Linked DNA regions of Homo sapiens: region 1 is linked to region 2. Evidence: fine-mapped expression QTL. A gene starts in region 2. The other region holds a variant in brackets. All regions are shown on one strand. Distances are between the middles of the regions. Region 1 overlaps RAB8B (RAB8B, member RAS oncogene family). Region 2 holds the start of RAB8B (RAB8B, member RAS oncogene family).

Region 1 (12,400 bases), 28 kb after region 2:
TTTGAGATGTGCGTCTTATCTGCAAAAACCCAAATAAAAGTGAAAGACCAGCTCTGCTTTTATTAGCTTAAGTGTTTTGTGTTAAAATCTCTTTTGGCCTAACTTTTCTTTATTGACAAGAGAACAAATAGTAGAATATCCTTTGTAGATCGGAAGTATAGAAATTACTGAGAATACTGGGAAATGCTTCACAGATGTTCCTGAAACTACAGCCAGATTGAGTGAATTCTTGTCCCTTTCTGAGTTGGGAGGTTGGGAGATTATTGTCTCACGTACTGTGATATTATAACTGTGTTCTACCCCAGACTATATGTGTTCACCATCTCTCTCATTGAGATTCTGGTTTAACCCTATTATATCCTTAACTTTGATGGCCATTAGAATAGGAAAGAATGTTTACGCAAGACTTTAGAGAGAGCCATAGTTTGATATTTCCTTTATAAAGCTTCCTGATACTGTGTTTAGTATTTACTTTCTTTAAATGTATCTTCTTAAAAGTACAGGTAGTGTGGTAGAGTTCAAAATTAACTTCCAGTTAAATCCAGTCATAGTTTTGGTGGATTTTTTTTGCCAAGCACCGCATTTTTCTTAGTATTGTCATATATTGACTGACACTAGTCAATTGCAACTAGTGACTGGTCATGATAGATATTGATAGACATCTCATAACTGTCATGGCTGAAGGGGAGTTGCCCCTAGTTGATCATTCAACAACATGAAGAGCCCTGTGTTTTTTTCTTTTTTTTAGAGACAGGATTTCACTCTGTCATTTAGGCTGGAGTGCAGTGGCGCAATCATGGCTCACTGCAGCCTCAACTTCCCAGGCTCAGGTGATTCTCCCACCTCAGCTTCCCAAGTAGCTGGGACTACAGGTGTGTCCCACCATGCCCAGCTCATTTTATTTAATTTTTTAAGAGAGGGAGTCTCTCTATGTTGCCTGGGCTGGTCTTGAACTCCTGGGCTCAAGCAGTCCTCCTGCCTCAGCATCCCAAAGCGCTGGGATTACAGTCATGAGCCACAGTGCCTGGCCTAAAAGCCCCATCTTCCTACACAGTGCGTTGTAGTCTTTCCTCCTGAATTGATGTAGAGGCATCCTTGATGTATAACAAGCAGAGCATGCTGAACTAGTTCGCAGCAAAAAACAAACAACGAAAACTTGATATCCAGGTTGTTCTTGGATAGGTCACCATGTTTATCATTTTTAAACATCCGGGGTTGTGAGATAAAGTTGTTAAGGGAGGGATTGCACCAGCACATTTTTCTGTTTCAGTTCATGTTCATCTGACTCATATTTATTCTAGTCTAACCTCATTTTGCGTGAAAATTTTTGTACTAGAAAATGTCACTTTCAATTAGGGGAGGGGAAATTCTGATTGGGGATCAGAAGAGTCAAGATGTATTAGTGATAATTTGGCATCACTTTTGATTCAAGGTAAAAACACAGAATCCCTAAAAATGTAGTAAAGTAAAAAGTGATTCATATAACTAGATAGGGGAAAGGAAATGTCACTGCTGAGCTTTACTGTGGGAAGAGGGGGAGGTGAAGGAAATTATTACAAAATTTTTGTACGTGATGAGGAGACAGCCTCTGGACTTCCCCAAATATTTCCGTATTCCCTAAAACAGCTCTAGTGAATTGCTTCATGATTGGTGTATGAATAGAAAGACACTAGAACTCTTAAACTTGATCTTGAAAGGCCCGTCTTTGTATATAATCATCCACAGATGTCCGTATGTGATTATATATTCCCATAGTGAGGCAATGATAAATGTAAATGAGAACCATGATATAATTTTGCCTTGCTTGCATGCACATTTTCAGAATAGAATTAAAAGCACATGCCACTGTCAGTAGTTAACTATGAGGTTTGTCTTAGTTTTTTATAAGGCTTTGGCAGAGGCCTAAAGCATGTTTTAGTGTCTAAGTCTTCCCTCCCTCCCTCTCTTCCTCCCTTCTTTCCTCCCTTCCTTCCCTCTTTGGAATCAAAAAGGAACTCTCTAGGTTCTGACTATTCTCTTTTCAGAACTAGGGACAATTTCAGCTTGTACACAGATTAATTTTCATTTTTTGGCTTCTCTGCTGGTACCTGAAATTGTAACTAAGTTATTACTAGATAATTCCTTTCTGACTTCTTCCTTCAAATAAAATCTGATAAGGACAAATGTCTTCTAGGTACTATTTCAGGTGGATATGTTTGGAGGGGGACGTGGGGCAAAGCAGAGGATAGGCTAGGGGTGCTGTTATAATGTAACTTAGGTCAGTTGATTGGTGCTTAGTAAATCATGGTTTTCTGTATAGTGCCAAATGCTCAGAAAATCTGTACTGGATAAAGAATTTCTTGTTCAAGTCTATTTAGTTACTGTACTTATGCCTAAAACTGGAATGTGCTCCTCTTTTAAATTCAGTAGGCTGTGCATTTATGACTATAGATGATACCACTTTCATTTTTAAAATAATGATAAAAGCTTAAGTTGTAAATTTAAGTTGTAATATGGACACTTAAAAAAAAACCCAAAACAAAACAATCTTCCTTCTGGTTATGGGGAATTCCTACATGAGTTCTTTCCAACTGCTTTTGTTTATATGAGTGTTGAAACTTAAAATGAGTAAATTCTGTCTTCCAAATAATTTTCTACATTTTCCATTTATTTCCATCGCTTATATCTGCTCTCAAGAACAAAACAAAAGTGGTTTCCAGGCCAGGCGCGGTGGCTCACGCCTGTAATCCCAGCACTTTGGGAGGCAGAGGCGGGCAGATCACGAGGTCAGGAGTTCGAGACCAGCCTGGGCAACATGGTGAAACCCCTACTCTAATAAAAATACAAAAATTAGCTGGGCGTTGTGGCATGTGTCTGTAATCCCAGCTACTCGGGAGGCTGAGGCAGGAGAATTGCTTGAACCTGGGAGGTGGAGGTTGTGGTGAGCCAAGATTGTGCCACTGCACTCCAGCCTGGGTGACAGAGCGAGACTCTGTCTCAGGGGAAAAAAAAAAGTGGTTTCGTTTGCTATACCAACGTGTAAAATGTAGAAATTTCCAGTGTTTAAAAATTCTGATTGGCTATTCCTTTCAAGGTATTACAGTGTGGGAGGTAAAGGATCTAATGTAGTTATCTAGGAGTTTAAGTTTGAAAAAGAATTCAACAGTGTTGAATTCCTTGGAAATGGGTACGCTCAGTTTCTTTCTTTTTTTTTTTTTTTTTTTTTTTGAGACGGAGTCTCACTCTGCTACCCATGCTGGAGTGCAGGGCCATGATCTCGGCTCACTGTAGCCTCCGCCTCCCAGGTTGCAGCGATTCTCCTGCCTCAGCCTCCCGGGTAGCTGGGATTACAGGCAGGTGCCACCGTGCCTGGCTAATTTTTGTATTTTCAGTAGAGACGGGGTTTCACCATGTTGGCCAGGCTGGTCTTGAACTCTTGTCCTCAGGTGATCTGCCCACCACGGCTTCTCACTTGATCTTAGCCAAAAGGCCGAGAAGCCATCCACCACGGCTTCTCAAAGTGCTAGGATTACAGGCGTGAGCCACCATGCCCAACCGTTTCTAACACTTCACAAAGCTTTTCCATCTGACAGTGGATTTGACCAGAGTGGGTTCTCTTGCTTCTAATTTCAGCAGCAGTTCATTTCTCTTTTTTAATGTAACCCTTGAGCTGTGGGGGTTGAAACCTGCTTCTGAGAATTCATGTTTCTTATCTTTTCCTCCTAAAACTGCATATAGTGGTGTTCTCCCCACCAAAAGAAACAATAAAAATAATTTCCCATGGAATACACATATAGTATTTAATTTTATTTTTTCTTGTTTACTAAGGTCTTTAAAATTGAGTAGGGCATCTACAGCTCTCTGTCCTCAGACCTTCCACCTCATTCTTATGGAGTCAGGAGTTTGCAATCTTCACAGGTTTCTGATCTCCTTTCCTATCCCAGACACAAGAGATACCTGCTGTTGCTATTTGTGACCAAATACCATATTTGTCAATAACTACCAACAGGGGCTCTGGGAATCTGGAAGCTGAAGACATCACTCTTGATAATTCAGTCCAAGGGCCCTTTGTCCCTCATACCCATCCTTTCTCTACTGGGATTTAGACTTTTGCCTTTCCTGCATCTGATCATAGTCTCATCGTGAAATGTGAGTACTTTCATATTAGATCTTATTCATTGATGCATTGATTTTATTTTAAAATTCATTTGTATACTTCCATACTTCTGATTAAAGTGTTCCAAAAATTGTCTTGATATTTTTTACTTAACTGCTGATTTTTCAAAGATATTAAATGAAAAACTGCCTTCTGGTCAATAACAAGTTTGTAAAGAGTAGGAAGTAATTTTTATACTTATATAAAAATTTAACCAGTTAACGCTGTATCTTTGTCATACTGTATTTCTTTTTAGTCTTCGAAGGAACTGAGAATCCCTATGATAGACTTCGCTACTTGTAAATGGACTATCAAAAGGAAAGTTCTTTCTAGTTTACTTTGAAAAATGCCTGAGGTCCTCATAATTTTCATTTTTATTTTAGTCAGTTTTAGAATTGTCAACTCAGTCTTATTTTCACAACCCTTTACTTTTTACTGAAAGTTGAAGTGGGAATTGGCAGAAGATTCAGAAGAAAGAGCAACTATATTATATTTGCCCTTAAAATTTTACCCTATAGACCAGGCATAGCTGCTCATGCCTATAATTCCAGCACTTTGGGAGGCTGAGGCAGGATGATTGTTTGACCCCAGGTGTTTGAGACCAGCCTGGGCAACATGGCGAGACCCCATCTCCATAAAAAATTTTAAAAATTAGCCAGGTGTGGTGACATGCACCTGTGGTCCCAGCTACTCTGGCGGCTGAGGTGGGAGGATCACTTGAACCCAGGAGGTTGAGGCTGCAGTGAGCCTTGTTTGTGTCACTGCACTCCAGTCTGGGCAGCAGAATGAGACCGTCTCAAAAAAAAGAAAAATTAAAGAAAATTACCCTATTCAAGAGTCCATAATTAGCATCTTAGCACCATATGATGTGTTTTTCTTCTCTATAATTTTTCATATATATTATCTACTGTGATTTCTCCTCTCTTTTAACATCCATATAAATGTTTCAATCCAACTTTTACTTTAATTAATTAATTAATTAATTAATTAATTATTATTTTTTTTTTTGGAGACAGAGTCTTGCTCTGTCTCCCCCACTGGAGTGCAGCGGCACAATCTTGGCTCACTGCAACCTCCGCCTCCTGGTTTCATGCAATTCTCCTGCCTCAACCTCCCAAGTATCTGGGACTACAGGCGCACACCATAACACCCGGCTAATTTTTTGTATTTTAGTAGAACTGGGGTTTCACCATGTTGTCCAGGTTGGTCTTGAACTCGTGAGCTCGAGCAGTCCACCTGCCTTGGCCTGCCAAAGTGCTGGGATTACAGGCGTGAGCCACTGTGCCTGGCCTCAATCCAACTTTTAAATGTTCAGTACCACTGATTTAAAAGTTCTGACTTGTGGCTTGTCTCGGTGGCTCACGCCTGTAATCCCAGCACTTTGGGAGGCCAAGGCGGGCAGATCACAAGGCAGGAGTTCGAGACCAGCCTGGCCAATATGATGAAACCCTGTCTCTACTAAAAATACAAAAATTAGTCGGGCATGGTGGTGTGCACCTGTAGTCCCAGCTCTTTGGGAGGCTGAGACAGGAGAATCGCTTGAACCTGGGAGGCAGAGGTTGCAGTGAGCTGAGATCATGCCGCTGCACTCCAGCCTGGGTGACAGAGTGAGACTCTGTCTCAAAAAAAAAAAAAAAAAAGTTTTGACTTGTAAAGTATTCCTCCTTTTTTAGTCATAAAGTGGTATCAGTGCAGTAGTCTCTGTTGCTAACACACTGGGGGACTTTTGCTAGAGAGAAGTTGGCCTCTGACTAGATGCACATGGGTTGATTACATCTATGTTTCTCTTAGTTCCACTGAATCTAATTTTCTTTCATTTCATTTCCTTATATCCTCTGAGCTCATGGTAGTTTCCTTCATCTTTAGAAAGAATAATCAGATATCTCATTAGATAAATCATATATGATTAATGTATGATTAGTCAGATAAAAGGAATTCAAATGTACTTCGAAGAGACTAATGAAAAGATGGTACATACGAGGGCCTAATGGTTTGAGGAATAAGCGTAATGGAGTTAGGATTGTTCTATATAATTACTTTCTTTTTGTGTAAAAGATGCAAAAATAAACGTCCTTTACATTTAAAAATATTGAATGGAATATGGGGTTTTTCCATTGGAACTTTCTAATCATTTCTAGTATTTATTCCAGCAGCAATTTAGACATTTAAGGAAAATGTTTTTCACCATGTGCCATGTTTTTGGGTCAGTGAGAAAGCCTTAACCAAGACGATTGTTGGGTGGTACTGTGTATAATAACTCCAGATCCTTGACCAAGTTTGGAGAGTCACTTATGGCCATTTGAAACCAAATGAAGGATCAAAGGACTAATTATTTTGAATACCTCTGAGTGTTTTCCCCAAGCTTGAGAAGAGTTTCATTCAGCTATAAAATGCTCATTGTGCAAATGAGTGGTTTCCATGCTGTATAATTAAAGCATTGCCTTTAATAATATTTTATTACCTTTAGCTTGTCTTTTTAATTTGAGGAAAATCTAAACAATTTAAAGTAAAACGTGATAAAGACAGTTTTTCGGGAGAGAGAAGGGTAGATCGCTATGTTTATTCCACTTAGTATCTATATCAAATATTTGTATCAAAAGCAGACTCTCACTTTAAAATTATTCTTCTAGTGGCAAGATTCTTTTCCCTAGATTGAGAGTACAGAGCTCACATAGTAATAACTGCTGTTAAAATAGACACTTAGAACTATAGAGCTAAAGCTTAGGTTCCAAACTAAGCGAAGCTGCCATTTTCTGAAATAATGTCTTTCTTATTTAAAAGGACCAGTTCCTTTTTGCCTTTTTTCCC[C/T]TTCCTCACTTCCTTCCTATTGCTCCATGTATGTTGTACATGTGGTTATCTGTTCTTTTTTTTTTATGCTTCTACCCTTATGTTGGCAAAAGAAATGCACCAATGGGAGGTGAAGGTTTAAAATATAACAGTTGAGTTCATTATCCCAGTTTTATCACTTTCTACAAGTATAAGCAAGTTACTTATCTGGACCTCTGTTTCCTCTTACGTTAAATGGGGATTAAAGCCCCCTTGCAGACTTGTTATGAGAATAGTGATAAGGAATATTCAGTACCTATCACAGTGCCTGGCCTTAAGTGGGTCCTTAAGAAGTGCTAGCTATTTTTATTAATGATAGCCTATCCCATTATAGCTGTCAGCATCATTATCTGCTGAGCAGGGATCTCAGGAGAGTATCTTGAAGAATATCGTTGGACTCCACTATACGGGGTTATCTAATCTGAAGCTCATTTTGTTTGGCTGCATTTTGTTCTAAGAGTTTGTGCTTTAGACATTCTGGATTGTTTTAAGCTGGAGTCATTTATTTTGCAGGCAATTATTTCCTCATTTAAAGGGCATAGTCCCACTTCATTCATTTGAAATGATGTCAGTTACCACACTACTGAACTCTTCTGGCCTTTTGTGATGGGCGTTTCTCTCTTTTGTTTCTTGGCCTTAGGCTGATAAATCAAAGTATCTCAGGTGATACAGGAATTCCCGGCAATGTCATATTCAAAATATTGGGCATGTTGCTCAAGCAGTATTTCCATTATTGGAATTCTCCTTTTTTCCTTTAAATCTTAGCCTCCCTGCTTGTTAATATGTTACTTTACTCACAAAATAGGAAGAAAAAAAAACACTTTAGCCTCTTAAGTTTAACAAATATTTTAGGGGCAGCTATATACAAGACCCTGAAGTTGTCATTTTTCTCTCTCTCACTAAAAAGTGAAGCTAAAATGATCTTTTCTTCCAGCAGTGGATTTTTTTTTTTTTTTTTTTTTTTTTTTTTAGAAGGAAAGAGATCACCAGGTGCCGGGAGACTGAGGTGGGTAGATCACGAGGTCAGAAGGTCGAGGCCATCCTGGCCAACACGGTGAAACCCCGTCTCCACTAAAATACAAAAATTTAGCCGGGGTGGTGGCACGCGCCTGTAGTCCCAGTTACTCAGGAGGCTGAGGCAGGGGAATTGCTTGAACTTGGGAGGCAGAGATTGTAGTGAGCTGAGATCACGCCACTGCACTCCAGCCTGGCAAAGGAGCGAGACTCCCATCAAAAAAAAAAAAAAAGAAAGAAAGAGAGAAAGAGATCGAGAGAGAGAATGTGACCTTTACTTGACTTCCAGGATGTTCTTTAAGCCAATGTTTTCAATATGGGTTGCAACCCATTACTGGGTCATGAAGTCAATTTACTGTGTCCAGACCAACTTTTTTTTTTTTTTTTAAATGGAGGGAAAGAGAACAGACAAGAACATGACAACAGATAAGAGAACACAGAGTCCACTGCACATGTAAGAGTAACAAGGAGTAAGGGTCAAGTGCTATTTCATAAAACTTTTGTTTCAGTTATGTAAGTATGTATATATGTGGAATGTGTTGTTATATAAAAATTATTTCTTACCAGTGGGTTAAAAAAGGCAGAAAGCCACTGCTGTGGGGCAGTTTGCCACTGAAGACTTGTCTCATTTTTTAGAAAAACCAATTCTATGGAGGCTGTATTTGATCAGACAGATCCCTTTTTTTCCATGAAAGAAAACTGGGTCTTTTACTATTGAGCCTATATTGATGGAAGGCTTCCACTGCTGGCTTAACTGGCTGTGTTTTTGAGAGGGTCTCTTGGGTAATGAGTCTATTATCTCTCTTCTTTTTTGGTTTTCTGCTTTCTACTCTTTCTACATGGACTCTGGAAGCCATTCTAGTTGTTGGAACAATGGTAGAAGTTCCCACACAACGTAGAGACATCCACAACATTTGGTTTTGTGATTGTTGTCCAAGTGTTAAGAAAACTATGGTTTCTGAAGAAAGTAAGACTTTCTAACCAATATGAAATATCCAATTATTTCCCCCCACTTCAGTGTTAGCCCTTATATCAGGCCTTTTAATATAATTACAAAATTGCTATTTATTTCAGTGTGTTGAATTTTTAAAAATCACCCGAACCCCTAAACCTGTCTAAGTTAACGTGGTTAGAATTGAGACAATGGTAGCAGAACCTTTCGTTCTATTTCATTTCTCTAGAAGAGACTGCATTGTTGCCTTTTCTTCATTCTAAAATGAAGACATCTACTTTATGTATGCTTAGTACTGTTTTGTCATTTGTACTTAATAATTTAAGAAAATTATTCTAGAATGTTCTTTAGGCCGGTGTTTTTAATATGGATTGCAACCCTTTATTGGGTCATGAAGTCAATTTACTGTGTACAGACCAACTTTTTTTTTTTAAATGGAGGGAAAGACAGTAGGACAAGAACATGAGAATAGAAGAGAGTACAGTGTTCACTGCACATATAAGAGTAAGGAGGAGTAAGAGTCAAGTGGTATTTTTTGAAACTTTCAGTGGTTTCATATTTTAGTGTTTTTTGTGTTTCACTTTTTTGTTTTATCACTTAAAGTTACCCAAATATGTAACTTAATTTGCCAGCCATTAAGATTCATTCCAGTAGGATCAATCTAGACATATGTAAACCTGATTGTATTCCAAAGTAATTGATCAGTGTCAAGAAATGTTTATTGAGTGCCTGTTACTTGCTTGGCAAACAGGAGGGAGGTTCCAAATGAAGTACTGTAAGTAAAAGATGAGGCTCCTGCTTTTTTTTAAAAAGGGTTTATCTTTCATTTATTCCTTTAAACATTTATCAGGCACTTATTTAATCAGCCGTATACAGTGCTAGATCCTCTGCTCAAGTGTAATTGGGAAGGTAAAACTTAAATGAAACAACAAAAATAATTAATTGCCACATGCATAATGATATGCATTCTAAATTCTGTAGGAGTTTAGGGTAGAGAGTGAGCAGAGTTGGCTGGAATAACTGGAGGACAGAGGAGGTAGAGTTTCTGAATCTTGAGGCACTTTCAGGATTCAGATGGAAAGGATGGAGAATGTTCCAGACAATGGGGAGATCTTGAAAAATGCTTAGAGGCAGGGAATACCACAGAGCATGAAAGAGGCATTTCTGAGGTTTTATGCTGAGGAATTGTGAAAAATAATGTTGGATATGTTGGATGGGGCCATATATTTTAAGATGGGTAATTGTAGAGTTACATAAACTAAAAAGGTATCCAGTATCCTGTGGTGCATACAGTCTACTTTGGGAGAAGGGAGGGATTATAAATAACTAATGAAGCTATACTGTATGTATTATGATGGAAGCTAGTACTGTGCTAGAAGTATTATAAGCAAAAAGCTTGAATGGCCATGTCAGTGGTTACCTTTGAGCTATATTAGTACTGCTCTGGCTTAGGGCTTGGCAACATCGCTGACTCAGTGACAAACTTCCTTTTTGGAAGTCCTGGCTCCTCACTTGCCAGCATATGACACTCCCAGTTCACCAGGTCATCCTGTCCCGAACTGCCCAGTTAATTGTGAAGCTATAAGACAGTCCTGGCCAGGGCTCATCTCCACCGCTAGCTGGGGATCCCACCACATAGCTAGACAGGTTCCTGAATGGACTTCTCCTTCAGGACCAGAGCATGGTTGGGGGTCTGTACATGTGCTTGCCTTCCACCCTGGGCTCACGAATTAATAGTGGAAATGTCTTCAAAGCAATTATTAAAAGTAATTATTGCTATGATTTCACTTTTGATTCTCCATTTATTTCACTTCTGTCTGCTTATTTATTTACCTACTTGATGTTTGTGGAGGCATGTATCAGTCAGCTTTTGCAGTTATACAACCCCAAAATCTCAGTTGCTTGTAACAGTCACATATTTGATTATTGCAGCTGAGGATTAACTGTAGCCCTTGGTCAGTTTTCTCTAATATTCATTCTTCCCTGTTTCTCCACCCAGGCTTCTGGGTCAGCTAGCTTCAGACTGGGTTCAGCTGATTAGAGAAACTGGCAGGAAATAATGCAAGAGGAGAAAGGGAGAAACCAAGATATTTCTCTTTTTCCCTTCTTGCCTTGGGTGGCTTCTCTAGCAGAGACTGTTTCTCTCTGGCTTTAGTTCTCACTGGACAGGACCACCATGGTTCTTGTCCAGTGACTCTATGTCTTCAGTTCCTATAACACCATCTCCTCCTTTTGTCTGTCCAGCTAAGGGGTGGTAGTGGCTCCCTGCTGTTGTCATCTCTTCCTTTTGTCTCTCCGGCTTAGGGGTGGTAGTGGCTCCCTGCTGTTGTTAAACCTTTTACCATCCCCAATATGGTTTGCAGCAATTTAATGCCTTATATAGCCAGTTCCCTCTATTAAATTCCTTCTGTTGTAAATACAGTCATGCACCACATAACAACATTATAGTGAATGATGGATCATATATAGGATGGTTGTCCCATAAGTTGATGATGATGATGATAATGATGATTTTTATTATTATTTGAGACGGAGTCTCACTCTGTTGCTCAGGCTGGAGTGCAGTGGCACAATCTTGGCTCACTGCAACCTCCGCTTCCTGGGCGCAAGCAATTCTCCTGCCTCAGCCTCCCGAGTAACTGGGACTACAGGCATATGCCACGACACCCGACTAATTTTTTTTGTATTTTTAGTAGAGATGGGGTTTCACCATGTTGGTCAGGCTGGTCTCGAACTCCTGACCTCAAGTGATCCTCCCGCTTTGGCCTCCCAAAGTGCTGGGATTACAGGTGTGAGCCACCATGCCCGGCCCACATAAGATTATAATGGAGCTAAAACATTTCTGTTGCCTAGTGACATCATAACTATTGTAATGTTGTACTACAGTTACCTTATTTTTTAAATATAATTTTGGTGTAGCTTAGGTGTATAGTGTTTATAGAGTCTACAGTAGTGTACAGTAATGTCCTAGGCCTTCACATTCACTCATCACTCTCTCATTGATTCCTTCAGAGCAACTTCCAGTCCTGTAAGCGCCTTTCATGGTAAGTACCCTATATAGGTATACCATTTTTATTTTACTTATTTTTTGTTATTTTTTGAGACGGAATCTTGCTCTGTCACCCAGGCTGGTATGCAGTGGCATGATTTTGGCTCACTGCAACCTCCACCTCCCGGGTTCAAGCGATTCTCCTGCCTCAGCCTCCCAAGTAGCTGGTACTACAGGCACCTGCCACCATGCCCGGCTAATTTTTGTATTTTTAGTAGAGACGGGGTTTCACTGTATTGGCCAGGCTGGTCTCGAACTCCTGACCTCAGGTGATCCACTTGCCTCGGCCCCAAAGTGCTGGGATTACAGGCATGAGCCACTGGGCCCAGCCACCATTTTTTATCTTTTATACCATGTTTTTACTGTACTTTTTCTATGTTTAGATATGTTTAAACACACAAATACTTACCATTGTGTTACAGTT
Region 2 (12,400 bases):
CCCGGGAGGCAGAGGTTGCAGTGAGCCGAGATCGTGCCATTACACTCCAGCCTGGACAATACAATGAGACTCAGTCTCAAAAACAAGCAAACAAATATCCATGTGCATTTGACACGTAAACACAGATGGTGCTCATTTGTTTCCCAGCCTTATCTTCTCCAGTCTTCACTAATAGAACCCTGTGTTTAGGGTGAGGCTGACTCTACACCCAGTCCCAGTGGCTTACATCAGTTGACAGAGGCCACTCTCTTGGGCCCTGCATAGGTTCAGGGAAGGGCAGTCAAGGCCCATGGAACTCAATTCCTGGGTATTTATTTGAACTTTTGGGGAAAAGGATTCTCTACATTCTGCTCTGTTTGAATCTGGAAGCAAGGAGCCCTAGGAGTTTCAGGAAGACATTTTGCAACCACATGGGGCTAGCCTATTGAAATAAGTGCTATCTTGAAGACGTGTTGCTAAGATGCTGACAAAGAGAAGCCAAGAACTGGGCATGTAATTTGAGCTACTAGATTAAGTCTCACCTGTCACTAGGCTTATATCTGATAATTCTAGTTTAGGGTTAAATATATTTATGGTTTAAATCAGTATTTTTATTTAGGTCATTTAGTATTCTGTTATTTACTACCATAAGAATCCCAATACCTGTTCTGATGCTGATTGTGAGTTTCAGCACATCTTGACTTTGCTATTGGATAAGAGTCCATTTTAAAGTTGGCCCCAAAAGACTTAAAAAAAAAACCAAAAAAAACAAACAAAAAACCTCAAGTTTACAAGAAGCTCTACCCAAAAAGCTCTACCCAAAATGCATAGTCCTTATTGCACGTCTTACTTTACACAAAATCCCACAAAATAGCAATGCCTAGCTTAATGAAATGAATGAATTTTGCTAATATTTTATTGTCAGCAACTTTATTACCAGAGAAAGAAATAATATAAGAGGTATTAGAATGAATTCCTTCCAAACCACCCTTTGGTGCAGGAGTCCTCAACCCCCGAGGCAGTGGGCCAGTTGTGGTCAGTGGCCTGTTAGGAACTGGGCTACACACCAGGAGGTGAGCAGCAGGTGAGCAAGCATTACCACCTGTGCTCCACCTCCTGTCAGAACTGAGGTGGCACTAGATTCTCAGAGGAGCACGAACCCCATTGTGAACTGCGTGTGTGAGGGATCTAGGTTGCCCACTCCTTATGAGAATCTAATGCCTAGGCCTGGTGCGGTGGCTCACACCTGTAATCCCAGCTCTTTGGGAGCCCAAGACAGGAGGATCACCTGAGGTCAGGAGTTTGAGACCAGCTTGGCCAACACGGTGAAACCCCATCTCTACTAAAAACAAAAACTAGCCGGGTGTGGTGGTGTGTGCCTGTAATCCCAGCTACTCAGGAGGCTGAGGCAGGAAAATCGCTTGAACCTGGGGAGGGGAGGTTCCAGGGAGCCTAGATCGTGCCACTGCACTCCAGCCTGGGTGACAGAGTGAGACTCTGTCCCAAAAAGAAAAAAAAAAAAGAATCTAATGCTTGATGTTCTGTCATTGTCTCGCATCACCCCTAGATGGGACCATCTAGTTGCAGGAAAACAAGCTCGGGGCTCCCACTGATTCTACATTATTGTAGAATGTACATAATGTAGGGGTCTTATCATCTCTCATTTTTATTTAACTTTTGCATCCAGTGGTGATATGCATAATATGTAACAATCAGTTTGGCAGGAACACTTGACCAATCAGATTGGAAGCCTGGCCAATCAGAATGGATGCCCAAATCATCAAAATCAACACCCAACCAATGAGAATGAGAATGGATGCCCCACTAATCCGAATGAAAAGCCAACCAATCAGAATGGACAACTTATCTTCACCTATCAAGATAAATGCAATGTGTACGAGCCTCACATTTACCATTGAATTTTTCATTTGTGGGCTCTCCCCTCAATTAGCTGGGAGCAAACTGAGGGCAAGGACCACATGAGACATCTTTTTGTATCCTCCAGGTGGCCTTGCTTAGCTGGTTTCAAAGTGTGAACTTAATGAATGTTTGAGTGGACATTTTTCACCTAGTGATTGCTCAGGAAATATCAGTCAGTGGAAAGGGTACAGTTTGTCCCTCTGATTAGGATAATTGTAGAATTATACACTGGAGTATCACTAAATAGCATTTTTTAATGACACACAGGTGACATGAAAAATTGGTATTTTTAAGGGCTTATCATTCAATGTGATCTTGACAAACCAGAAAAATAATACATAATTATGCTGATTTCTTAAACACAACAATGAATAGTGTACTTACTGAATGAATAACATCTAAATACAAGGTAGAGTACAAACAGAAAGATATTAGCGAGGTCCCAAACACCTAATATAGCAAATAATAAACTAAAGGTGTCCAGATGTTTTAAAATTAGCTAGACTGCTAAGATGCTAGTCAGATCTTCATTCATTGGTTCATTCAACACCTTGAGTGCCTGCTATGTATAAAACATCATGCTAAGCATGCTGGGGATGCAGCAATACATTAGCAGTCTCTTTCCTCAAAGAGCTCAACTTTTAAGGGAGCAGACAAAGAAGCACACAAACCATTCAATAACAGAGAGAGAACTTATTCAACAGCTGAGTCATCAGTCAGTGAAGATAATCACCATAAAGGACATCTTTGTAGCCCACCGGGACAGCTGTGCTCAACAGATGGCAGAGGGCCAGAACCTAAGAGTAGTTGGGCAGAAGTGTCAACCGAGATGGGTACACACTGATTCCCAGAGGCTGCTTTGCCTTTAATTTTTCAGGACCATGTGAGCTCCTGGATTCTTGTAAGATACAATTAAGGAGAGGAAAAGTCCCAATAATAACTGATTTTGGGCCGGGCGCGGTGGCTCATGCCTGTAATCCCAGCACTTTGGGAGGCCAAGGTGGGCGGATCACCTGAGGTCAGGAGTTGGAGATCAGCCTGGCCAACATGGTGAAATCCCGTCTCTATTAAAAATATAAAAATTAGCTGGGCATTGTGATGGGAACCTGTAATCCCAGCTACTCGGGAGGCTGAGGCAGGGGAAATGCTTGAATCCAGGAGGCAGAGGTTGCAGTGAGTTGAGACTGTGCCATTGCACTCCAGCCTGGGCAACAAGAGTGAAACTCCGTCTCAAAAACAAACAAAAAAAACCTGATATTGGTTTTGCCAGCCTTTGATAAGTAGGGGTCTCAGCCAAATTTAATTTCGTTAAAGCCATTAAGAAAGGTGATTTCTTGCTCTCAAGTGTCATGGAGCAACTTAAACCAGTTTAAAAATTCTTAAACTATTTTGAAAATTTGCTTAGAGAACACACAGACCCTCAAGACTATGTTTGTAGAATCTTGGGAGTGGACCTCCAAGATGAATACATTACTGTGGAGAGTGAATAATGCCTTTGGAATTGTGCAACATGGCAGTCTTGCTTGCTACCATGAGGAAAGCTAGCCTGAGGACAAAGTAAACACAGAGAAGAGCAGGAACAAGAGCATACAGGAAAATGAACTAAAGCTTTGATCAAAACCAGCCAAAAGCTCACATAGACCTCATACCAGACAGACCTACTTTCAGCATCAAAACCCATTTCCTTAGAAAGTTCACAGGGAAGAACTCGGATTGACGCAGCCTGGGTCATATGCCCACCTCTGTGGCATGTGGAGTGAAGTGACATGATTCACAGCCATCATTAGAAAGAGGAGTGGCTTTCCAAAAACAGAAAGAGTGCTGGTCTGACAAAATTCACAGAAGGTAGACTCCTTGGACATCTAGATTTCTGTAGTCAAGCTGTCATGTACAATATTAACCCTATAGAAGGCTTCAATAAACATTTGCTAAATCAAATTGAATGTGCCTGGTGCTCTGCAGTGATGTAGTATTTACAGGGTGGGCTTGGGAAACTGACAGAAAGTATTGATGTGGTTCACTCAGAGCATAGTAACTTGGAGTTTAAAACGGGGTCCACTGATAGCTCTCGGAGAAAGAAGGAACAGTGGCAACCAGCAACCTGCTACCTGAAGTAACTGTACTGCTACAAATATACTTAATGTCCAGTCCTTTGAGCAAAATGCCTTGATTCAATAGTACTCAGTTACTACCACCAGAATCCGATATCTAAATAACATTGTTGCACAAAATATGAAAATGAATAATGTGTAAGAGAAAAAAATCTGATTCTTTTTGAAGTAGTATCAATATGTCAAAATGCTTGAATGGTTCAACAGTGGTGCACAAACTTACCAGCTAGAAAGTCCCAATATTATATATACTTGGTAGCAGAGAAAAACTGGGGAAGTGAAAATAAGACAACATTATTATTTTTTAAAATTCCCATCAATTAACAAAATTCCCCTAAGAAAATTTAGGGACTTTAAAATTCCTAATGCTAGTTTCTCTTTTGAACTTAAGTTCTTTACCGTATCACTACATTTTTATTCATATAGAAAGAGAGTGATAATAGTTGCATACAGACAGTGGGACTAAACATCATTTTAATAAATATGCGGTTTTTTTTTTTCTTTTGAGACAGAGTCTTGCTCTGTCACCCTGGCTGGAGTGCAGTGGTGCAATCTCGGCTCACTGCAAGCTCCGCCTCCCGGGTTCATGCCATTCTCCTGCCTCAGCCTCCCGAGTAGCTGGGACTACAGGCGCCCGCCACCATGCCCGGCTAATTTTTTGTACTTTTAGTAGAGACGGGGTTTCACCGTGTTAGCCAGGATGGTCTCGATCTCCTGACCTCGTGATCTGCCCGCCTGGGCCTCCCAAAGTGCTGGGATTACAGGCGTGAGCCACCGCGCCTGGCCATAAATATACATTTTTAAAAAGAAATAAATTCCACTGGTCTTTGCGGAATTTTTTCCCCTTCTTTTCCAGGAATGAGGAGGAAGATATAGAACAATCCACACTGTTCAGATCATGGCTGAAGCCACGTTCAGAGGCTTGCTCAAGGACTGGCTTGGGCAAGAGGGCTCAGCCTGTGCCAGAGGGCAGAATCCTTCTTCATTAGGGGCAGACACTGTGACTTTGAACTCATTAGAGCTTTGTTCCTATCTAGTGGACTCTAGGAATGAGACATTCCGTAAGCAGCAGCAGCAGCAGCAGCAGCCCTCTGGCTACTGTATGATCAATCAGTTAATGATGACACATTTCATCTTTTACCCGCATAGAAAATGAAGGCCAATTCTAGGGCCAACTAAGTCTTCTGCCACAATGCAACTGAGAATGGATTATCAGTGGCACTGTTCCTAAAGTCACAAGGCACACAGTATGTGTCCTTAGAAAAGCCTGCTGGTTTGTTCAACTAACTGTCCACGGTTTTTCCCCCCCCCCCTTTTCTTATTCCACTAATGGTGGAGTCCACTGGTTCCCTTAATAACCTCTAGCCTTCCAGAAGGTGTTTCCTTATAGCTAAGGTAAATGTCTGGACCAGTGGTTCTCAAATACTTTGGTTTCAAGACCCCTTCATCCTCTTAAAACTTATTGAAGACTCCAAGAAGCTTTTTTTCATGTGGGTTTTACCTGTCGGTATTTGACATATTAGAAATTAAAACTTCGAAGGGAGAACAACAGATGAGAGACACAGAGCCCTGGCAGGGTGGACTCCTAGTCCCACACCTTCTTAGCCTTTTGCTTCCACATTACCTGAACCAGTCAACACCCCTTTCACAACAGCTAATCCGGTTGGGTTTCTGCCACTAGCAAATGAAAGGGGACTGAACAATACATCCACAAAACAGAGAATTAGCCTAAGACAATAAATAATAAAGGATTAACTTGAGTATAACAGAATGCTGTTTCCTCCCTATATTCGTCATCAATTAAGTGAGAGCCTACTGAAGAGTAATGAATATTACCATCACTGCTAACAGTGCCTTATGGGTTTCAAAGAACTTTCACATTTAGTATTTAAGTTTCACTGGAACCCTATGAAGTATCTTGTTTCATATCCATTTTACAGATGAGAAAACTGAAATGTCCAGTGCCTGTGTGACTTGTCACAGCGGTTTTGCAGCAGAGCCAAGACTAAATTCAAATCTTACTCTCTAAATTCCCGTGGCCCGCCTCACAGGATGCTTGCAGTTTCATGGGGCACAGACCTGTAGCACAAGACTTCCCAGATTTAAAAATCCATCCTCCTGCGAGGAGAGGGGAGCGATCAGCGTAGCAGATTCTCTAAATACTCATTGTATTTGGCTCTGGTCTGTGTGGCGTGAAGAAGGGGGCACGAGTGAGGTTCGAGTTAGCATGGTAACCATTCTTTCTCAGCTCTGTGACTGAGGGGCTGCGGGAGGGGGTTATAGTGGTGCTGGGCATGGCCTCGGGGAGAAGCTGGATAATGCCCTCTGCAGATAACCCGTAGGCTGCGCCACAGCAGCGCCAAGGAAAGAAAGCATCTCTGCTCCAGGTCTCGGCGGAAGAGATGCGGGAACTACGGGGCTCTGATTCTGAGGTCCTGGATTTGGAAGGCGTCTGCACACAAAGAAATAACAAAGTTAAGTTCCCGCGGCTCGACCAGCAGAGTACGAAACGGGGCCTCCCTTCCCAGCTCGGGTGGAAACGCCTCCACCCTGTCACCCCGCCCATAGCAGGTCTTTTATCCGCTGGAGCCGCCTGGACAGTCCTCGCGGGGCACGCCCGAGGCTCCCCGGAGGAACTACAAGTCCCATGAAGTCCCGGGGCGCGGGCGGTGATGACGAAGCCCTCGCCGATTGGCCGCACGGGGCGGGGCGCGCAGGCCTTCTCCGAGAGGAGGGGCGGGGCGTGGGGCGGGGCGAGCAGCGGCGGATTGGCGGGCACGCCCCCTCGCCCGCGGCCCCCTCCCCGCCTCTCTCCACCGCCTCCTCTGGCTCCCCGGTCAGAGGGCCGGAGCGAGAAGATGGCGAAGACGTACGATTATCTCTTCAAGCTCCTGCTGATCGGCGACTCGGGGGTAGGCAAGACCTGCCTCCTGTTCCGCTTCTCAGAGGACGCCTTCAACACCACCTTCATCTCCACCATCGGTGAGGGAGGGGCCGCGGCCCGGGACCGGGTAGAGAATTGGGGGGCGGGTACTAGGGGACGGGGAAAGGGCGGGGGGCGCTTGGGAGCCCGGGAGAGGAGACCCCGGGGACTGCAAGGTGGCGGGGGCACTGAGAGGGGCGAGGGCGTGAGGGAGAGGGGCGAGGGCGTGAGGGAGAGAGGCGAGCGGGAACGTGAGGCTAAGGGCGAAGGGGGAACTTGGGGGCAAAGGAACGGGAAGGGGAACAGAGGAACAAGGACTAGGGGTATTGGGGGAACGAGAGGGTTCGGAGACTGACAGGGAGGGGTCTTTGAGGGACAAAATGTGTTGGGGGGAAGACTCAGGAAATCTCATGTAGAGAGAAGGGGATAGTGGACGTGCCAATGATTAAAAGACAGGAGAGGAAGGAAATGTGAAGGGGGAAATGAGGGATGGGGGCAATGAGAGGGATGTGAAGTAAAGGGACAGAGGACACAAGGGACAGAGAGGTGAGAACCAGGCAACTGGAAGGGAATTCAGGGGAATGAGCGGTCAGGAGGTGAGGAAGAAGGGGACGGCTGGCCACAGGAGGTCTGGACTGAGATGTCGTAGGAGGGGACAGAAGAAAATTGTAGGTGGAAGAAGAGTTCAAGGGATCAGAGGGCAGAATGAGGATACTTGATGGAGAAAGTAAAGGGATCTGGGTGTGAGACAGAAAGGAAAAGAGGAAGCAACATCATAGTAAAGGGAGGTTGAGCAGAGAAGACAGAGGAGATGGAAAAGAGAGGAAATGGAAAGTAGTGGGGCGCAAGACTTGCTATAGTAACTGATTACCATTTTCTCTTCACTTCCTTTGGATCAAGTGCAGGAGAAAGCAAAATGTGACTAATGATGGAATAATGTCTATAGAGCGTTAATTTGTTCTGTGAGTGTTAATGGATGTTAAGGGAATTGGTGACTTTTGGAAATGATGTGGTCAGGAAAATATGGTTCACCTCTTTACTACCATCTCCTGAGAAGCAAGACTTCTCAGTATTTTAAATCCTTCGGTTTGAATGTTTAACAGCTTCTCAGCCAAGGAAATGAACTTACATTCTACCTGCCTCCCTGTATATTTTGCTTTGGTTCTAATTATTGTTAAGTGAATCACAACATGTGATATACCTCTCAGTTACTTCCAATTGAATCAAGAGTTTTTCTGATCCTGGCTGGGAGCTGTCCTTTCTACTTTTGTACTGGAAGACACTGTGTTCAGGTAATAAGATCTCTTAACTTATCATAAACTGAAGACCAAGTCAAAGCTGGTTTTAAGCTGTTTTAGAAGTGACCACCTTAACATCATTTCTCCTGTTAAATAGTTGCAGGTTAATTAAGTACCTTAAGAATACCTCAGCTTTTGGTTGTGTTGGTGATGTTTCTGGCCTCTAATAGTGGCTTATTTAGTCATCTTTCGTATGGTTCTTACAGCATATTTCACCATGAATTTCTGGGTTGGGAAATAATAGAGAGCTAGTGCTTTGGTAATACGTGTGTTTAAATATTTGTGTATTTTTAAGGATAATTTATCTTTTTTTAAAAAAAGAGTATTTGGTATAGAACACTCTTTAAGTATTAGTAAAGGCTATGGTTTGTTTGCTCATTCTGGATTCTTTCATATAGATTGAATGGTCTAAAATCTCCTGGGTGTTATGATGTCTGGGCTTAGGGAAGTTTGAATTGCAAGTTCTTGGCAGTCAGTCTTGAGTGGGACTTTTTCTTTTCTGAAAAAGCAGATTTTAAATGTCATCTCTCAAGTATATTCCTAAGATTTGGTGGTAGCTGCTGGTACAGCAACTAAAGGGTGTTAATTTTTGACATTTGTATTAATTTCAAAGCCTCAAATAACAATTTTTCATTGTTGAATGCATACTGCAGTACAGATGGTAAAGGATAATTTCTAACAAGTTGAGTGGGTGTCCTTTTGTCCATTCTGTATTTGAGCCTCCCAGAAGTATCTCCTGCCTTGAAAGTAAGTGAATCTCGCTGATGCTGTTTTTGTTAAGCTTCTTGGACGACTTGCTTGTTTGTAATAGTTTTATTCGTTTTCTCTTTTTCCCTTAATTTTTGTCCCATGTTTCCTGTAAGGGTATCTGGTTCCTTTTAAAATAGTAGCTTTTAAAAATTACTTTTCATTTTGAAGGGTTCAAGTCTATCAGTGGATTTCAAAAAATGATGGAAATGAGGTTCTTTGGAGGGTGACAGCTATGAAGGCATGAAAACCAGTGTCCTGAAACAGATTAGAATAGGAAGTGAACATGAAAAGGAGGTGAATCTCATGTGACATCTTGGTCTTTATATTTTCTGTGAGGTGGATGTGGTAAAAAGAGGTGTGAGCTGTGTCTTCAGTTGACGTGGAGGAGGGGAAATCCCATACCTCTTATTTAGCCCCAGAGCTCCAACAGGAAGTGGTAGCACACTGCCTTCAAACTGCAGAATTTATATACACACTGCCTTCAAACTGCAGAATTATATAGAAACCTAATGCTCTGCAGTCAAAATTAAGCTGGGAAAATAAGGTGAATGTTAGCACCATTCTGGTTCCACAGACTCTTCACTGATTACAAGTATAGATTTTGAGTGTTGACATCTCTAGCAGCCACTCCCTCCATGCCCCTCACCTCATTCCCAGGTGATCTGAAGTTACTGAGGTGACAGCCCATCTCCTCCCTAGTCATGAAGTACCTAAGTGTGTAAGTTCCTGTGCTTTTCTGACTGGGTTTTGATGAAGTCTGCCATAGCATTGCTGACAGCACTTGATAAGCTCTGTGTCATACGGAAAAGATGTATTTCTCAACGCCTGGGGTTTGTGTGTATGTGTTTTGGTAGATATGTATGGGTGTCTGTTTCTTCCCATGAAGATACATTTTAAGTCTTAATTTTGCTTTGTCAAAGTTTTAGTAGTTTTAAAAATGGTAATCTGCCATCTTTCGACACTGTTTTGATAGGGGTTCTGTCATCACGAAGGGAAGGAGACAGTCATTTTGATTCCAGATACAGTTGTCTCAGAGATACTTTCTTCTTCTCACTTCTCTAAGGTCTTGCTATTGGCTGGGTGTGGTGGCTCAAGCTTGTAACCCCAGCACTTTGGGAGACTGAGGTGGGAGGATCACTTGAAGCCAGGAGTTCAAGACCAGCCTGGGAAACATAGCGAGACTCTGTCTCTACAAAAATACAAAAATTCACCAAACGGTGTATGCCTGTATTCCTAGCTACTTGGGAGGCTGAGGCAGGAAGATCACTTGAGGCCAGGAGTTTGACACCAGTCTGGGCAACATAGCAAGACCCCATCTCTACAAAAAGTAAATTAAAAAATTAGCCAGGTGGAGTGGTGCACACCTTTAGTACTAGCTACTTGGGAGGCTGAGGCAGGAGGATAACGTGAGCCCAGGAGTTCAAGGTTATTACAGTAAGCTATGATTGCACCACTGCTCTCCAGCCTGGGAGACAGAGCAAGATTCTGTCTCTAAAAAATAGATAAGTAAATAAATAAGGTTTTGCTATCTTCTCTGATATCTCAGGTCCCTTCATTTCCTTTTTGCTCTTTGAGGGGTGTTGGAAGGTAGATTTTCTTGTATCTGACTTTTTGAAGATCTTCTAGTATATCTGTCAATAGTTTAGTTAACTGTGAGGAAAGGATGTTTTATCCATTTGAAATTATTGGTCAAGTGCCTAGGACCAACTCGCCTTTCACTCCAAATGTTTGAAAATTGAATTTTTTTTATTGGCTCTAAAAACCCTTATGTAATCATAATTAACATTTAATTGGCCAAGCGCAGTGGCTCATGCCTGTAATCTCAGCACTTTGGGAGGCCAAGGCAGGCGGATCACAAGGTCAGGAGATTGAGACCATCCCGGCTAATACGGTGAACCCCGTCTCTACTAAAAAATACAAAAAATTAGCCGGGGGTGGCAGCGGGCACCTGTAGTCCCAGCTACTTGGGAGGCTGAGGCAGGAGAATGGCGTGAACCTGGGAGGCCGAGCTTGCAGTGAGCTGAGATCGCGCCACTGCATTCCAGCCTGGGCGACAGAGCAAGACTCCATCTCAAAAAACAACAACAACAACAACATCAAAAACATTTAATTAAGTGCCTGTAAAATGTAACATAAAGACAACTAGGAATGATGATACAGTTAGCTATAGATTATATTTCCTCTGGGAAATGGATGCATTTTAATATTGATATGAGGGCATACCGACGTCTTGAAATGGCTCTGGACAGAAAAAGGTGCTGGTTTAACAAAAAGAGATAACCCAGCCCTGTCCTCTTGACAGGACAATCAGAGCTTCTTCCCTTTGCCGTCTCTCTGCTGCCCTGCCCCCTTCTTCCTGTTAGGTATTTCCTGAGTGGTTTCACTATTTAGTATAGTCATAGTTTAACAGCAGAAAGAGTCTTAGATATTATCTACTTTATTCCTGTCCCAATTTTATAAATAAAAAAAAAATGAAGGTTTAATTGACACCCTCAAAATTACACAGCTGATTATAGCAGATCCTGTAGTGAAACCCCAGATCCAAGTCTATGTCACTTTTCACAACTGAGTTGCTACTATTCCTAATCAGTATGATTATCCCCATTAATTCAAGTCATCACCTTTTCCAGGGAAGAATTAGAGTTTGCACATACGCCTTTATGTGAGGAAAGTTAAGACATTTCTGTTTTGATTAGCCGAGTCTGTTCAGGTGAATAGCAAATGTTACTACAATGACTCTGAGTTCTGTTGGAGTTTATACTGGAATAACTCAGCGCATAGCTGTCCTTTGCCCTTTCTGTGTCTATAGTTTCACATTAGGAGATCAAAGTGTATCCTATCATTAAAATTTCTTCCATACGTAAAGTAACTAATGAAATCATATTAATGGGGGTATGTTAGTAATTGTTGTAGCTTAGTCTCATCAGAGTACTTTTAGACATTTTATTCTGTAACACTGGATATTTTTCTTGGGTTCACTTTCCTTAAAATCAGGGGTTAGCACACTATAGCCTATGGGCCAAGTGTGACCTGCAGCCTGTTTTTGTGTAGCTCACAGGCTAAGAATGGTTTTTATATTTTAAAGGTTATTAAAAAATAAAGCAATATGCAAAAGAGACCATATGTATCCCACAAAGCTTAAAAATATTTACTAACTGGTTCTTTGTAGAAAGTTTGCTGACCGTTACTTAAAATTAAAAACTATTTTTGGTTGGTAGCATTTCAAAGCTTTTATCAAGACTTATTGACTGAAAAACAAACTTTGTCATATTTACATTTTTATCCAAGATGACATCAACATTTGGCTGAGCATAATCCAGATACGTAGAGCAAGTTGATTTTCATTTTCATAGTTGTTTTCCTTGGTTTCAACTTCTCAAACAAAAATATGCAAGGAACATGCAAGTTCATATTGAACA

What was found.
Region 1: its variant is fine-mapped to the expression of RAB8B in whole blood (INTERVAL, PIP above 0.99).

What each region holds. Positions count from the first base shown.
Region 1 is chr15:63,211,103-63,223,502 of GRCh38, forward strand. The region is part of intron 1 of RAB8B (RAB8B, member RAS oncogene family); the gene reads left to right. Among named protein-coding and RNA genes, the nearest start is that of RAB8B, 28 kb to the left of the region's middle. RefSeq lists an enhancer at 1-90. The variant C/T (reference allele first, on the strand shown) is at 6,944.
Region 2 is chr15:63,182,757-63,195,156 of GRCh38, forward strand. RAB8B (RAB8B, member RAS oncogene family) reads left to right here and starts at 6,850. Exons shown (of 8, transcript NM_016530.3): 1 at 6,850-6,992. The coding sequence starts at 6,869. LOC101928972 (a long non-coding RNA gene) reads right to left here and starts at 6,675. Exons shown (of 4, transcript XR_932355.4): 1 at 6,090-6,675; 2 at 4,234-4,279. RefSeq lists enhancers at 6,275-6,424, 9,511-9,670, 10,952-11,452 and a silencer at 6,605-6,934.